2 separate regions of the Homo sapiens genome follow, and region 2 is linked to region 1. A link means that fine-mapping ties the variant in region 1 to the expression of a gene that starts in the linked region. Tissue or cell type: lung. Region 1 holds a variant in brackets; the other region holds the start of a gene. All regions are shown on one strand. Distances are between the middles of the regions.

The links. PIP is the estimated chance that this variant, and not a neighbour inherited with it, causes the effect.
Region 2: it holds the start of SLC16A4, and the variant in region 1 is fine-mapped to the expression of SLC16A4 in lung (TOPMed, PIP 0.95).

What each region holds. Positions count from the first base shown.
Region 1 is chr1:110,433,697-110,441,909 of GRCh38, reverse strand. No RefSeq gene overlaps it. Among named protein-coding and RNA genes, the nearest start is that of PROK1, 13 kb to the left of the region's middle. RefSeq lists a silencer at 7,817-8,006. The variant T/C (reference allele first, on the strand shown) is at 3,695.
Region 2 is chr1:110,387,271-110,395,270 of GRCh38, reverse strand. It overlaps SLC16A4 (solute carrier family 16 member 4), which reads left to right and starts at 4,245. Exons shown (of 9, transcript NM_004696.3): 1 at 4,245-4,406; 2 at 5,916-6,034. The coding sequence starts at 5,948.

The DNA.
Region 1 (8,213 bases):
TCACAATGCCTAAGGAGTCTACAAAGAAACTGAGAGCCACAGGCAGGGTAAAAACCGCTTCACTGCCCAGAGGGGAGATGGCTCAGGCTGACCCAGGAGGCCAGGGAGAAGCCAGCCACAGAGGGGAAAGGGCTTTCTCTCCACAGCTCTCTCTCCTGCCCGCTGCTAGGGCAGGACTTGGCATTTTCACCCTCAAGGTTTCATCCCAAGGCAGTCTGGTCTGTTTCTACCCCCTCACCACACGGAGAAGGAACCTGAACCCATAAGTTCCTGAACCCAGAAGGAACCTGAACCCAGAAGTCATGAAAGTGCCTAAGTCACATAGCTAGACACTGGCAGAACCCAAACTCCACCCAGCTATGGCCCAGGAGGAGGAGGCCTGGAATGAAGAAGCCTGGGTTTGAGTCCCAGCTCTGCCACTGAGATCAGCTGGATTCCCTCACTCCTTCCAGTCTCTATCTTCAGGACCTGCCTCACCTCCCAGATTTTTAAGGGAACCGAAGGAGAGAGGGTGGGCTAACACGCCTGTGGACTGGGATATCTTTCATGATGGGACATTGCTCTTCAGCCCCATTGGAGCCCTCATCATTTAGCTGGAAAGGTGAAAAGGAGAGTTGTTCTAACAGAACCATCTTCTCAGGCCACAGGGCTGGGACTATTGTTTAAGAACATTCCATGATAACTTGGCAGAGCCTAGGAAAGGAGGTGCAGCAGCAGGATCTCAGGGTAAGCAGTGTTTGCACTTCCTCATGCCTGGTCAGCCTTAGGCACAGGATGGGGGCTCACTTAGGAGCTGAGCTGTCGAGTTGGCTGACCAGTCAAGAAGGACTGGAAAAAAGGCACGAGAGGCCTTTTTCTTTTTTAGACAGAGTCTTGCTCTATCACCAAGGCTGGAATGCAGTGACGCAATCTGGGCTCACTGCAACCCCCACCTCCCAGGTTCAAGTGATTCTTGTGCCTAAGCCTGCCAAGCAGCTGGGATTACAGGAGTGTGCCACCACACCCAGCTAATTTTTTGTATTTTGGGTAGAGGACGGGGTTTCTCCATGTTGGCCAGGCTGGTCTTGAACTCCTGGCCTCAAGAGATCCACCCACCTCAGCCTCCCAAAGTGCTGGAATTGCAGGTGTGAGCCACTGCCCCTGGCCACAAGAGACATTAATAAGCTCCACCGTCTCCTTCTACCATCCTGCCATGATGCCCATCCCATCCCACCTTCCCCTCCTACTCTGGGGCTTCTCCCACCGGCCCCCACACCAGGTTTGTTAATGCTCTCCAGTCTCAGCCCCCTGCTCTGTCCTTGGGATGGGGTCTCCCTGAAGGTTCATATTTGGGGGAATCTGGTGCACAGGAGGGAAAGGCAGCATGGGGGCCCTGAGCCCAGAGGCAGCCTTAACAGTCTGGACCTGCTGGAGCTTTTCGCAAAAGGCCCCGCCCAGAAGAAAGCTTGGGGCCCTTCTCTCTTAGCCTGCGTTCCCAAACTTGGAGCCCAAGGCTGAGTTTGGGGGTTAGGTTGGAAACTTAACAGGACAATGTCCTATCCCACCTGCCTTACCAGCCTTAGGTCCCCCCACCCACACACCAGAAAGTCCAGCCTGCTAATCTTCTGATCATCTTCTTCCCCAGCAGCCCTCAATTTCCACCTCCCACCACCCTGTCACCTGTCAGCTTCCAAACACTCTAACCCTATGTATTAGTCCATTCTCACATTACTATAAGGAAATACCCAAGAATGTGTAATTTATAAAGAAAAGAGATTTAATTGACTCACAGTTCCGCATGGCTGGGGAAGTCTCAGGAAACTTACAATCATGGCAGAAATCACTTCTTCACAGGGTGGCAGGAGAGAGAATGAGTGCCAGCAGGGGAAATACCAGACACTTATAAAACCATCAGATCTCATGAGAACTCACTCACTATCACAAAAGCAGCATGGGGGAAACCACTCCCATGATTCAATTACCTCCCACTGGGTCCCGCACTTGACACGTGGGAATTATTACAATTCAAGATGAGATTTGGGTGGGGACACAGAGCCAAACCATACATCACCCTATAAGGCACAGTCCCAGGACTGCACTCTCTCTCTGGTCCACTGCAGGCCGAGTTCCAGAGCCAGAGAGTGGGTGCGCTGTTTTAGGGTAGGTCTTGAAATGGCAACCAAGCTTATGAGGAAGAAGAAGTGAACGAATTGCAGATGCCTAGCCTGAAAAAGCAGCCATGATGGCAACCTTCCACTGCAGTGATCCATTACTGGGCAGTCTACGTGCATTGTCTGATGTCCTGAGTAGACATCACTACCCCACCACTACTCCAGCTGAGGAAACGAAGGCTCCATGATGGCCCAAAGTCACACAGATAGTAAGTCACAGGGCTAAAACCTGACCCCAAATCTAACTCTAGATGCTCACACTTCTGACTGCTGTGCCGCACTGCCTCTCACATATGAGAGAGTTGTGTTGCCCCAAAAGGCAAAATAGGATCAAAGTGTGGAAGGTACAGGGAAGAAGATTTTAGCCCAGTATAAGGAAGAATATCCCAGCAGACAAGGGAATTGGCTGCTATGGAAGCAATGAGCTTCTCATTGCTAAATATGTTCAGAAATAGGCCTTACAGCTGACCCTCTGTCAGGGAGGATATGGAGGGGATTTTTCTCCTTAGTACCCTTTAAGATCCTAAGAGACTGAGTATACAAATGGACAACAGCCAGACCATATCTAAAAACAGGGATTGCACCTACAATCTGCAGCAGCAAGTCCAGGAAACCAACCCCTTATCTACCATAAACAATCCAGGAAGCCCGGCTACCATAAGTCAGACTTGCAACAAATCATGCTGCTATCTCTCACAGTAATCCAGAAAACCAAAAAATAACCGCTGTAAACAATCAGCCCCAAATGGCCAGGACTTGATTAATAACCAACAGCACCCGCCCCCGCTAATTTTTGTCCCCACTTCCAACTCAGGACAAACCAGAGAAAGCTAAATATGCACCCCCTACCAATCACATAGGATGCCCCGCTTCTAGTGAGCCTGCCTACAGCTTCCCCAGGCCAGCAGCCCCCAATCAGGAAACACCTGAAGCCTTCCCTTTTTCCCACTGTAAACCTTTCCCACTCCTCTGCCTGCCTTTAGGTCTCATCAATACGCAAGTGAGGGTGGCGGTCTCCCTTGCTATAGCAAGCTTGGGCCAAGTAGCTTTTGCTTGTCTCATTTGGTCTTCGTTTATTTCCACAATCCTTCCAAATGCTAAGATTCAAATGAATGAGTGTGTGTGTGTGTGTGTGTGTGTGTGTGTGTGTGTGTGTGTTTCTATGCCCAGGTGCGATCATGTATACCCACATGCATAAGTATACATCTCATATGTTACTCTTGCCTGTGGATCGCTGGCATCCTAGGCCCAGCTCATGGACTTTCTGGACCCCAAGGGTTCCTGATAGCAGGTTCCCCTGGTGCCCCACAACATCATGTCCCCTGGGCCCATCTTTGGTTTCAGGAACAGCTGAGATAGAAAATTCCATGTGAGCTCAGATTCACTTTCACTCGCATCAGTGAAGAGACCACCAAACAGGCTTTGTGTGAGCAACAAGGCTGTTTATTTCACCTGGGTGCAGGTGGGCTGAGTCCGAAAAGAGTCAGCGAAGGGAGATAGGGGTGGGGCCGTTTTATAAGATTTGGGTGGATAGTGGAAAATTA[T/C]AGTCAAAGGGGGTTGTTCTCTGGTGGCAGGGGCTGGGGCCATAAGGTGCTCAGTGGGGGAGCTTTTGAGCCAGGATGAGCCAGGAGAAGGAATTTCACAAGGTAATGTCATCAGTTAAGGCAGGGACCGGCCATTTTCGCTTCTTTTGTGGTGGAATGTCATAAGTTAAGGCAGGATCGGGCCATTTTCACTTCTTTTGTGATTCTTCAGTTACTTCAGGCCATCTGGATGTATACGTGCAGGTCACAGGGGATATGATGGCTTAGCTTGGGCTCAGAGGCCTGACATTCACCTTGTGCTAACAGGGTCAACCTGGAAAACCGTTTTTTCCCATGTGATGCCCACGGCCTCTCTACTGCAGGAGCTCAACCCACTCATCAGCACAGCCTGCAAGTACAGGAAGTTAATCCCTCCCCACTGGAGGAACCCTCAACCAGAGGGAGTAGGAACCAGTGGGTGAATGCTCCAACTCAGAGGGCCTTAGACCTCTTCTCTGGGGGCTATGGAAGAATCCAGCCTGCAATCTGGAGAACACATTATTTCTCAGCATTCCTTCTTTCCTTGCTTCTTTCCCCCCACTCTTTCTTCTATTTTCTGGAATCACCTTCAGATAAACTACTGGCACCCAAGCCTTTGCCTCTGGCTCTGTTTTGTGGGGAACCCAAGCTAAGATGTCACCTCAACATTTTAGGACTTTATTTTTCTTCTCTTCAAAATAAGGGGCTTTCAGACACAGTGCCTTGGGGGCTATCCTGGGAGGAAGGGTATCCTCCCTGTGGCTAGAAGAGTCCAGCAGAAAGCTGCCCACACCACTGGGACAGAGCAGCTCCAAATGCAGCAATTTCACATAGTTGGGGTCCACGTGAGTTCACTTTCTGAAAGGACTTGTGCTTTGACATCTTGGAAGACCAGTGCCTGAGCTCATCTTTGATTTCAGCAGCAGCTGAGATAGAAAATTCCACCTGAGCACAGATTCAGCCAGGTTTTTGGCAATTGCCCTTCTTCCATCCAACTCTGAAGGCAGTTTCAGAAAGAAGAGCCCAGGCTCCCAGCTGCTCCTGCTGAGGTGGAGCCCGTTGTCTGAAGCTGCCTTACAGGGCCTCCTGTCCAAGGACATAAGGTCTCATCAAAATGAAGCATGGGGTTAGTTAGTATGCGCACTTGGCTGGATATTTCCAATAAATTTCTGGACATTCCTATGTGAAATAAATTTCTTCTTGTAAGAGGATCCCTCAGGCACTAGAAACCTCTCTGGTTTATTAGCTCGCTGACCCTCCTATAAATGTCAAAGCCATCCCCTAGATGGGAGCCCAGCAATGTCTTTGAAGTGGCAGAGGCCATAAACATTCCACGACTGCCTTACTAATGGCAGAGGCTCTCACAGACAATCAAGGCCCTTCAGCCTCCTTGCACGCTAGTGACTCCCACACAGGCAGGAAGATGCCAGAGTTGGCGGGAAAGGAGGGCAATTGCTAAAAGCCAGAGGCCCAGAAACGTGGAAAGCTGTGGTCGGCGGGACTCCCTTCCCTGAAGGAGTCAGAGAAGATGTCTTCCCCTTTGTGCTGGCAAGATCAGAGTTCTCAGGAGAGGAGAACCCAGGAGTCAATGCTCCCAGCTAGTCTCCATCTGGTCTAGCTTCTCTCCAGGCATAGTTGGAGCGTGGGCCAAAGAAAACTCAGTCAGGGGACGGCAGGCAGAAAGCCACCAAAGGGCCAAAGCCACTAGTCCTGCCCCTGAGTTTTCTGTGTGTGGTCTCCTCTGGCCTTGATTTTCCACCCACAGAATGGGGTGAACGCCCCTCTGAAAATCACAGAATGTTAGAAGCAACAAAGGCTTAGATCTTCCAGCACAGTCTCTTCAAGTCTGAGCGCGGCTGGTCCAGCTTCCTCCTGGCCAGATCCCTGCTCATCCTATACTGTTGCTCACTCAGTGCTCCCAGGTCACCCCCCAAAATTGTTTCATGGCCCTTTGTTAATTCAAGGCATCTTCCCCAGCACCTGACCTTTTAGGTACAGAGATCACATGTAACCCAAAGGGCAGCACTATTACAAATAGGCCTTCTTAAGTAGCTATTTCCACGGCAAAAAATGAGTGGTGCTCTAGTGCAATTTTTCTAACTATTTGACTATGACCCACCATAAGAAATAAACTAGAGCCCAGCACCCACAAGCACGAATTTATGTTTATATAAAACTAAAATCAAGGGTTTATGAAATAATACTTATCCCTATCACAGGCAATGCACTCTGATATATTTTCTATTCTAGTCTAATCTGTTTCATCTTTTAGTACTGGTTGCAACTCGCTAAACCAGGGATCAGCAAATATTTTCTGCAAAAGGCCTGAGAGTAAATATTTTAGGCTTTGATGACTATATGATCTCTGTCCCAAGTAATTAAATTAACTCTGCCATTGTAGTGGGAAAGCTGCCATTGACAATAGGAAACGAGTGGGGGTAGCGGTGTTCCAATGAAACTTTATTCATACAAATAAATAAAGGCTGAATTTGCCCCATAAGCTGTGATCTAAACTGATTTCATGACCCACTAATGGATCTCAATCCACAGTTTGAAAAACATTGCTGTAGGGGACCACTCCCCAAGTCTTTTCCTCTAACAGAAACCAAGTTTTGCTCAGTGTGTACCTCTCCTACAGGTAATGCAATTCCCCAGGGTACTTAGAAGCTGTGCTTCAGGGGAAGCTGACCATATTCCCAGCACTAGCACTGCATCTTGAACAGTCAACCCACCACATTGTTCACCTGTAACTGCGGATGATCCAGGGGTGTACAGGTGAACTACGCTGGCCTGATTAGTCAGAAGGGAAGGCCATAAAGTCTATGCTTGGGAGAGTGGTTTCTTTCTTTCTACAGCTGGGTGAATCAAGCAATCATGGAGCCCTTCTCCTTCCACCATCGGTAGTTGGAGAGTCGGGACCATCAGAGTAACCAGTCTTAGGAAAAAAGCCAATGCTGAGGATGACAGAGCAGAAAGATGAAAGAACCTGGATCCTTGATTTGACCACATGTTAATTGAATTTAAGCCAGGCTCTCTATCTCTTGTACCCAGAAGCATTCTGATACAAACACAGTACATCAAGAGGCAGGCTCCTGCCCGAAGACAGCACATTGGCTCTATCCCAAACAAATGCAAGCTTCTGGGGAAAGATCAGACAAGTTCCCATTCCAAGCAGCCAGGGACCCAAGCCCTTCACCAGCTGACTGGAGTCCCTCTCCCCAGTGGTGCCAGCCCCACAGAAGCCAGCAGCCTTTAAGGTGTTCTAAGCTCTGGATCCAGTGCTCTTTCCTTCCTCACATAGGCTGGTAAAAGTAGGAGTAAGTGAAATCAGGACCAACTCACTCTATTTTTTTTTCTTTCTTTTTTTTAGATGGAGTCTTGCTCTGTTGCCCAGGCTGGAGTGCAGTGGCACCTCCACCTCTCGGGTTCAAGCGATTCTCAAACCTCAGCCTCCTGAGTAGCTGGGATTACAGGTGCATGCCCCCACACCCAGCTAATTTTTGTATTTTTAGGAAAGACGGGTTTTCACCACGTTGGCCAGGCTCGTCTCGAACTCCTGACCTCAAGTGATCTGCCTGCCTCGACCTCCCGAAGTGCTGGAATTACAATTGTGAGCCACTGTGACCAGCCAACTCACTCTAATTTCTTAATTTAAAAAGCCTCCCATTAGCTGCCTGCTGAAGGAAGGCAGATTCCATGGAAGTTTACATTTTTCAGATGGGTGGTTGTCAGAATAGAAACTTTTCATCCAAATGGGAGATATTGGGCATCCAAGTTGACCCCCGACACCCACCCTGTGGCCTGGGGGGAAACAGACAGGACCACCGCTTTATTGATAAGGCTGCCAGGAGCGAAAAGAAAGGAAAATACTTAATGCCACTGAATCGTACACTCAAAAATGGTTAAAATAGTAAATTCTAAGTTATTCGCATTTCACCACAATTTTAAAAGACTGAAAAGAAGGAAACAGAGTCACATGAGTAGCTCTGAGGGCAGCAGGGCAGGGAGATCACATGTTGAAATCCTACAGAAACTCCTTAGAAAGACAGGCATGAAACACTGTCCTGAGCGTGAGTCTGTACTGCCAGGAAGGCCTGGGTGCAGGTTAGCTCAGGGGTGTGAGTCTGATGGGCTGGTCACACGGGGAAAGGCCTGGGGCTGAGTCAGTGGCAGCAACAAAGCCAGAACCTCCCAGCAGGTGGCTTTCTCTCACTCTCCAGCCTTTCGGCCTGCCCCTGCCCCCACTGTGGGCTGAGAGTGCAGGAGGAGCTTCTGTTGGGCAATCACTCTCAGCAGGCACTGTGACAGGTCCCTAAAAGGGCCAGGAGGATGGAGAGAACTAAGGAAAATGACAAGTTCACCAAGGACTTGGACTAGTTGGTGCCAAGTGCACTTTGTAGGCCCCTGGCCAGCGCCAGGAGGAGACACAAGGGGACAAAGATGCCCAGGTCCCCAGCATCCAAAGCAGAGACTCTGGGTTTCACTCAGAGGCCAATGCTTG
Region 2 (8,000 bases), 47 kb after region 1:
CAGCCTGGCCAATATGGTGAAATCCCATTTCTACTAAAAATCCAAAAAAATTAGCTGGGTGTGGTGGTGCACATGATCCCAGCTACTCAGGAGGATGAGGCACAAGAATCACCTGAACCCAGGAGGCGGAGGTTGCAGTGAGATGAGATTGTGCCATTGCACTCCAGCCTGGGCTGTGACTGAGCGAGACCCTGTATCCAAAAAAAAAAATAAGTTCTAACCATGACCTCCCAACCCCTGCATAATTCAAGCCCTGCTAACCCCTTGGGCCACATCTCATGCCACCCTGTGTCTACCACATATCCCCCTCTGGCACAGCGTCTGGCACATAGGAAGCAATTGTTTTTATTGAATGAAATAAATGAACATACATTCTCATTTATTCTTCACAGCACCCTTTGAGGTAGGATATAATGTATCCAATTTATCAATGAAACATAAGATGTGCTGGAAAGAGCTTGAGGCTGGAAAAGGCTCATTTTCTAGTCTGTACAGAGCCAAAGCTGAAGTATGCTTGTATGAGGGAGTCCCAGGACACTTCTATAATAGTTAATTTTATGTGTCAGCTTGGCTGGGCTATGGGATGCTCAGGTATTTGGCTAGACATTATTTTGGGGTGTAACCGTGAAGGTGTTTCTGGATGAGATCAGCATTTGAATCAGTAGACTGAAGAAGACTGCCCTCCCCAATGTGAGCGGAACTCATGCAATCCATTAAAGGCCTGAATAGAATAAAAGGCTAAGAAAGAATTTCTCACTGCCTGACTGTCTTGGAGTCGGGACATCAGTCTTCTCCTGACTTTGGACTCAAACTCAGAATGGAACTTACACAAATGGCTCTCCTGGTTCTCAGGCCCTCTCAGACTAAAACTTACACCATCAGCACTTCTGGTTTTCAGGCTTCTGGACTCAGACTGGAACTACACCATCAACTCTCTTGAGTGTCCCGCTTGCTGACCAGAGTGCAGGCTTTTCAGTCTCCATAATCATGTGAGTCAATTCTCATAGTAAATCAACCTTAATATCTCCTCCCCCATCACTGGTTCTTGCTCTGGAGAATATTCTATTCTTTCTCGAGAACCCAGACTCATTCAACCCCTCAGGTTTGATAATTCACTAGGATGACTCACAGGACTGAGCATTTAGTTGTTGTACTTACATGGTTTATTAAAGTGAAAGGATACAAAGCTGACTCAACAAAGGCAAAAGGAGGATGGGGCAAAGTCCAGAAGAAACCAGGCAGAAGCTTGCAAGAATTCTTCTATCAGTGAAGATACACAGGATGCAGTTAATTCCTCCAGCAATGAGTTGTAACAACATGTGTGAAATGTTGCCAATCCAGAAAGCTTAGTAGAGACTCAGTGCCCAAGGGGGCTGGTCACCAAAGTACCCTCTCTGCCTAGCACATATCAAAATTCCAAGCTCCCGAAAAAAGCAAATGTTCAGCATAAAAATTGTATTGTTTACATAGTTTAAGCACAATGATTCACTATTATCATTTAAGGAATGGTAGGAACCCTCCTGAAATCTAAGTTCCCAGTTGCCAGCCAGAGGCCAACCATGTAAACAGGCCTTTCAAAGAATAGGAATCTCAGGCCAGCGATGTTAACTCTTTTCTGAACAAGGATTGAATGAGGGCAAGGAGAGAGTCAACTAAAAATAAAGTATCTTAATTCTAGTTGGTAAAGCTTATTAAAGTCTAAATCCATAAGTGTTAAAAATTATTCCTGGGCTGGCTATGTTTGACACTGGGATGGGGGTAATAGTGGTGATTGCCAAATCATGCTGCATTCTTGCTGAATAGCTTTAGGGCCAAGAGTTAAAAGGTTAGAAGTTGAGGGAATTGTTTATGTTTCGTTAAAGACCCTACAAGCTTTATTAAGACAATTGGGTACAGATGCCAAAATGTTAACTAATATCCCAAAGGTGGCTTAAGAATTCTTTCTTCTTGCTATTAGGCCTCATTTGACTAACAAAAATTATTTTTCATGAACCAAGTACCAATAGTAGGTCCAATGTGCAGTCATCTTACATTATATATTGTTAATCCTCACAACAACCTTGCAAAATATTAGCTACGCTTTAGAGTTTTAGAAACAGACTCAAAGAGAGTAAATTGCCCAGAGTCTACGGGCTTAAAAACTGACAAAATTGAGATTATCACCAAGCCTGCATTTCTGTTCATGTGCCTCTATGAAACATATGTTTGAAGTTCATCTCTGATTACTTTGCTGTCCTCTTGGCCTCTATGAATGACTTGCTGTTCTGCCGCATTTCAAATCTGACCCCAGGCATTAGCATCAGAGTTCTCTATCAATATAAAGCCTATTATAAGACAAAGATGAATAGGAATATATACACACATATATAATGTATTGTTTACATAGGTTAGGCACAATGATTCACTATTATCATTTAAGGAATGGTAGGAACCCTCCTGAAATCTAACTTCCCAGTTGTATATGTTCCTATATGTATATGTGTGTATATATATATTCCTCTGTGTGTGTGTGTGTAAGAAAAATATATATATAGCCTAGCATCATTTCATCCTGTGATTAGAATTATGGATAGCTGGCTCCTTACAGTGGTTTATGCCTGTAATCCTAATACTTTGGGAGGTCAGGATGGGAGGATCGCTTGAGCCCAGGACATTGCAAACAGCCTGGGCAACAGAGTGAAACCCCCATCTCTTAAAAAAAAAAAAAATTAATTAGCTGAGCATGGTGGTGCATGCCTGTAGTCCCAGCTACTCAGGAGGCTGAGGTAGGAGGATTGCTTGAGCTGGGGAGGTCAAGGCTGCAGTAAACCATGATTATGCCACTGACTCCAGCCTGGGCAATAGAGCAGGCCCTGTCTCAAGAAAAAAAGAAATCATAGATAGCCCTGCTTTAAAAGAGCAACAAGCGTGCCACCAAAAAAATAAATAAATCAGTCTTGTTTACTAAAAAATGTTTTCAGGCTGGCCACGGTGGCTTACGTCTGTAATCCCAGCACTTTGGCAGGCTAAGGCAGGCGGATTGCCTGAGCTCAGGAGTTTGAGACCAGCCCGGGCAACACGGTGAAACCCCGTTTCTACTAAAATACAAAAAATTAGCTGGGCGTGGTGGTATGCGCCTGTAGTACCAGGTACTTGGGAGACTGAGGCAGGAGAATCACTTGAACACGGGAGGCAGAGGTTGCAGTGAACCGAAATTGCACCACTGCACTCCAGCCTGGGCGACAGAGTGAGACTCTGTCTCAAAAAAAAAAAAGTTGTCTAGAGTGTATTCATAATTACAAACAGCTCTCTGAAAAGCATTTATTTGCCTTCTCTCTTTGGGTTTTCTCCTTCTGTTGAATGTTTATTTGATCCTTGCCACCAGCATCATGTAACTGCATAATCCTTCCATGCTTACACTTACAGGGCACCCTCCCAAACCACTAAGCTGTCCTTCTGCAAGCACTTTAATCAAAAAGTATTATAGAGTTTGATTTTAAGAATCTGAGAAGCCTCTTGCTTCTTAAAAAGGAACATGCATAAATATGTGCAGATTTTCCAGATAAAACTAAAAACACATCCTTTCGTCTAAAATATACTCTGGTTTAAAATCTGGAATATTGGTGTGGGAGACGAAAGACAATTTCCCATTTGACTTGTTTGTTTTGTTTTGTTTTATGTGGAGGGTAGAGGGAGGAAATGGGAAGAGAAAGTTGAATTATCCCAGTAATTTTCTAGGGGTCTCAGCCTTAACCATTTCCAAAATATAATAAAAAAAATCTCATTAAAATTACTACGAGCATACGTCTTTTGCAGGAGGTGGTTGAGGTAATCAGATCTCAAAAATGCAATTAAAATGGGGTCTGAAACCCCAAATTAGTAACCAGAATCTTTAGTCAATATACAAAAGGCCACACGAATGGGTTGAGCTTACTGAAGATTTCTGTTTGTGGCCCAGGAAATGCCTCTCTCACCACCCATCCAGGAGTTTTATATTCTCCTGTAAAATAAGCATGTTGTGAGAAGTTCCCTGAGGAAATTTGAAGACAAGTGTATGAGAGCTCTGGAGCCCCATCCCCCTGCCCTGAGCATAGTCGCCAAAAGGACTTTCCACTTAGTTTACTTCATGCTTGCTTTTGAGCCTGCGGCAAAAAATTCTACCTTCTGAGTGACTGTGGGTGGAGGGAGGGCCTGAGATGACATCAAATCACAGTCTTTCCTCCTCCCCTCAGGAAGTAAAGTCCACTAGCAGGAGGGCCTAAATCGTCTGAGCCCTCCTTGGCTCTTACAATGCTCACTTGTTTTCACAATGCAGCAAAATGAAATGCCTTAGAAAAAGAGTAACATTCCAGAAAACGGTGTAATTTATTTTTCTTCCTTAATTGCCCCATCTGTGGAGGATTTCTTTGCTGAACACCACATCAAAGGTAAGATGGGAATGGGACTGTGTGCTGGGTTGGTTTTCTAACAACGACTGGCATCTCTCCCCACCCAGCCTGCTCACCAGATGGCCATTCCGCATACCCTGCCAGCTGACTTTCCTTTCCAGTTAGAAACAGTCAGCCTTCGACCCGACAGGGGAAATAATGAGTACTGTTCCCCCTTCCTCAGAACATTTACATTTTCTTTTTGCTATCATTCTTTATATACACTTGTTTATTTTACGGAACCGATTGGGAGAAGGTAGCATAGTGTCATGTTACTCCTGAATACTTTAGCATGTATCTCCTAAGAATATTCTCTTGTGGAAGAGGTTCCAAGAGGTTAACCTTGGTACAGTATTCTGTATTATACAGTCCATATTCAAATTTCCCCAACTGTCCCCACAAACTGTCTTTTACAACTTTTTTTTCTGATCTAGGATATATTCAATAAGCGGGTATCGCATTTCGTTGTCATGTCTGTTTAGCTCCAAAAATATTTACATTTAGCAAGTGTTTTCTAAGGAGAATTCCTAAACTCAAGGCTCGCCTTCCCTTTCTATTTCTCTTAAGAGTTCACCCGGAGGACCAGCAGGGTGACGCACAGCTTCTCCAAGAAACTGGCTTGCAGACCTGGGGGGAGGGACACTGAGTACAGTTCTAGGAGTGGCCACCCCACAGTCACTGAGATCAGGCTTTCCAGGTAACTAAGTCCTTAGTTGCATCAGGCAGACTTCATCTGTAACTGAGGGGTTAAAAAAAAATTACAAGTGGTTTTATATCATAGGGAAAGAGGTTTTTTTTCTGTTTTGTATTACATTTCAACTTTTATTTTAGATTCAGGGGGTACATGTGTAGGTTTGTTACAAAGGCATATTGTCTGATGCTGAGATTTGGAGTATAATTGAACCCCTCACCCAGATAGTGAGCACAGCATCCAATAGGGAGTTTTTCAACCCTCCTCCCTCCCTATCTTGTAGTCCCCAGTGTCTGTGGTTCCCCTCTTTATGTCCATATGTACCCAATTTTTAGCTCCCACTTATAAGTGAGAACATGCAGTATTTGGTTGTTTCTGCATCAATTTGCTCAAGATAATGGTCCAGCTGCATCCATATTGCTGGAAAGGATATGATTTTGTTCTTTTTTATGGTGGCTGTGTAGTATTCCATGGTGTCTATGTATCACATTTTCTTTATCCAACCCACTGTTGATGAGCACGTAGGTTGATTCCATGTCTTTGCTATTGTGAATAATGCTGCAGTGAACATAAAAGTGCATGTGGCTTTTTGGTAGAACAATTTATCTTCCTTTGGGTATATACCCAGGAATGGGATTACTGGGTCAAATGGTAGTTCAATTTTTGGTTCTTTCAGAAATCTCCAAACTGCGTTGCACAGTGGCTGAACTAATTTGCATTCCCACCAACAATGTATGAACGTTCCCTTTCAGATAAAAAGTTTAAAAGTTTAGATTAGTTTCTGGTCCACTGAATCAACTGTCTTGGATTTATCACAGGGATCTTCTGCATTTAAAATAGAAGAGGCATCATGCTGAAGAGGGAGGGGAAGGTCCAACCTTACACTAAAACCCTGGATGGAGGATGGGGATGGATGATTGTGATTCATTTTTTCCTGGTAAGAATTCACTTTTTTCCCCCTTTCCTATTGCCTAAAAGCAGGCTTTCTGGAGAAAGGCTCAGAGCTGCCTACGAATAGGATCACTTAGGAAATCTTTGGCATCTGAGTGGAGGGGTGGGCAGGAACAAGGCCAGGAGCTGCCAAAAACTGCTAAAGTCAGAGGCCCATGCCGAACCCAGGAGAAAGTTGAAAATGCCCCTAGAGCAAAAGCAGAAATGTTCCTGGGCTGGGTGTGGGGGCTCACACCTATAATCCCAGCACTTTGGGAGGCCTAGGTGTGTGGATCACTTGAAGTCAGGAGTTCGAGACCAGCCTAGCTAACATGGTGAAACCCGATCACTACAAAAATACAAAAATTAGCTGAGTGCAGTGGCATGCACCTGTAGTCCCAGCTACTTGGGAGGCTGAGGCAGGAGAATTGCTTGAAATCAGGAGGTGGAGACTGAAGTGAGCCAAGATCGTGCCACTGCACTGCAGCCTAGGCAACCATGAGAGACTCTCTCAAAACAAACAAACAGAAGTGTTCCTGAATCCAGTCATCTACTCTTCCTATCATCTCTTAAACCTGAGAATGCTCAGTCACAATCAGCAGTTCTGTACTGGCTGCATGGCAATTAGGGTTTGGGGACAATCATACTTTTAACCATCCCAAAAGTAGCACTGGGAGGTGCTAAAAAGTGCTCTGGGGGTGATCTCCCCAGTTCAGCCCAGCATAGATAGAACACTGTGGGCACAGCCCCTTCTACCGATAAGGGGTGGGGACATTTCCTCTGTTTGGCCTGCTGTCTACTTCCCAATCCATCCCCACTAACTATAGTTTATGCTATCTATATTTCCGATGTGTTTGGAAAGGGAGGACAAGGATTTTGAAGGGGGAGCCTGATTCTTCTCCTTTACCCATAAGCAACTAGACGAGGCATTCCATTTTTTAAATTAACTTCTTTCCCTCACCCTCCCAGGGGTTGAGGTGTGAGAGTGGTGATCTGCATCATCAGCATGCCCATTCCAGAATGTTGGTGAACCCCAGCTATGCCCCACACAGCTCTCCAGAGAGTGGCACCAGCTGCACAATTCTTAAGTGTTTCCAGAGTTCTATTAACTTTGAGATGCACTCAAAAAAAAACACCCTTTTCTTGCCGACACTTCCCCCCTACTCAGCCCTACAGTAAGCAGCTCACGGGGAAAGGTAGCACAGGTCTTGGTGCCTTCTAATAATCCTATAGTTCACATGCAGATATCTAAGAATTCTACAAATAGGATGGTGGGAAAACATCAGGCCTCCTCCCTCGTGCTAGACAAGATAGGGGCAGAGGTCCCCAGCCAGGATTTATGTAATACAAAACTCTTAACACATAATAGTAGTACTTGCTAAACATTAGCTTCAGTACTAAACAATCTCATTTTCCCCCTAGAAATGTTACTAATAGGGAAACTAAAGGATGCCCTAAGTCTGAGAGCCCTTCCTGGGGCTGGGCCACCCCCCTAAATCATAGGCTTTGCAGAATAGGCACTGTTGGTGAGGATCTCTAATTCTCCTGCCTTTCTCCCCAGTAACCACCCTGACTTTTTCTACATTATCCTCTGAGGATAGAATGGTTTTTGATCAATTTAGTTGCTGATAGGAAAAACCATCTAATAACCAGATTAATAAACACTGTCCCACTTTTAGGGTGTGATACTGCTTACTAAGCACAAAAAATGCACTGGATCCTCAAAATGTTAACAATAAATTCAGGGGCTAATCCCCCACAGTTGTAATGTGGATACTTGAATGACTGTGCTTTTGTTTCTGTATGACTTACAACTGTTCTTTTCTATAACAGATGAGCTCCTAGTAAGTGAAAAATAACAATGTTCTTTGGGAGCTTCCTACTTAAAAAAAGAGAGAGAGATTCATTCTAACCAACTTACCACACTTTATATATTTGTATGACTGTTTTCTGTATTCAGTCTGTCTTACTAG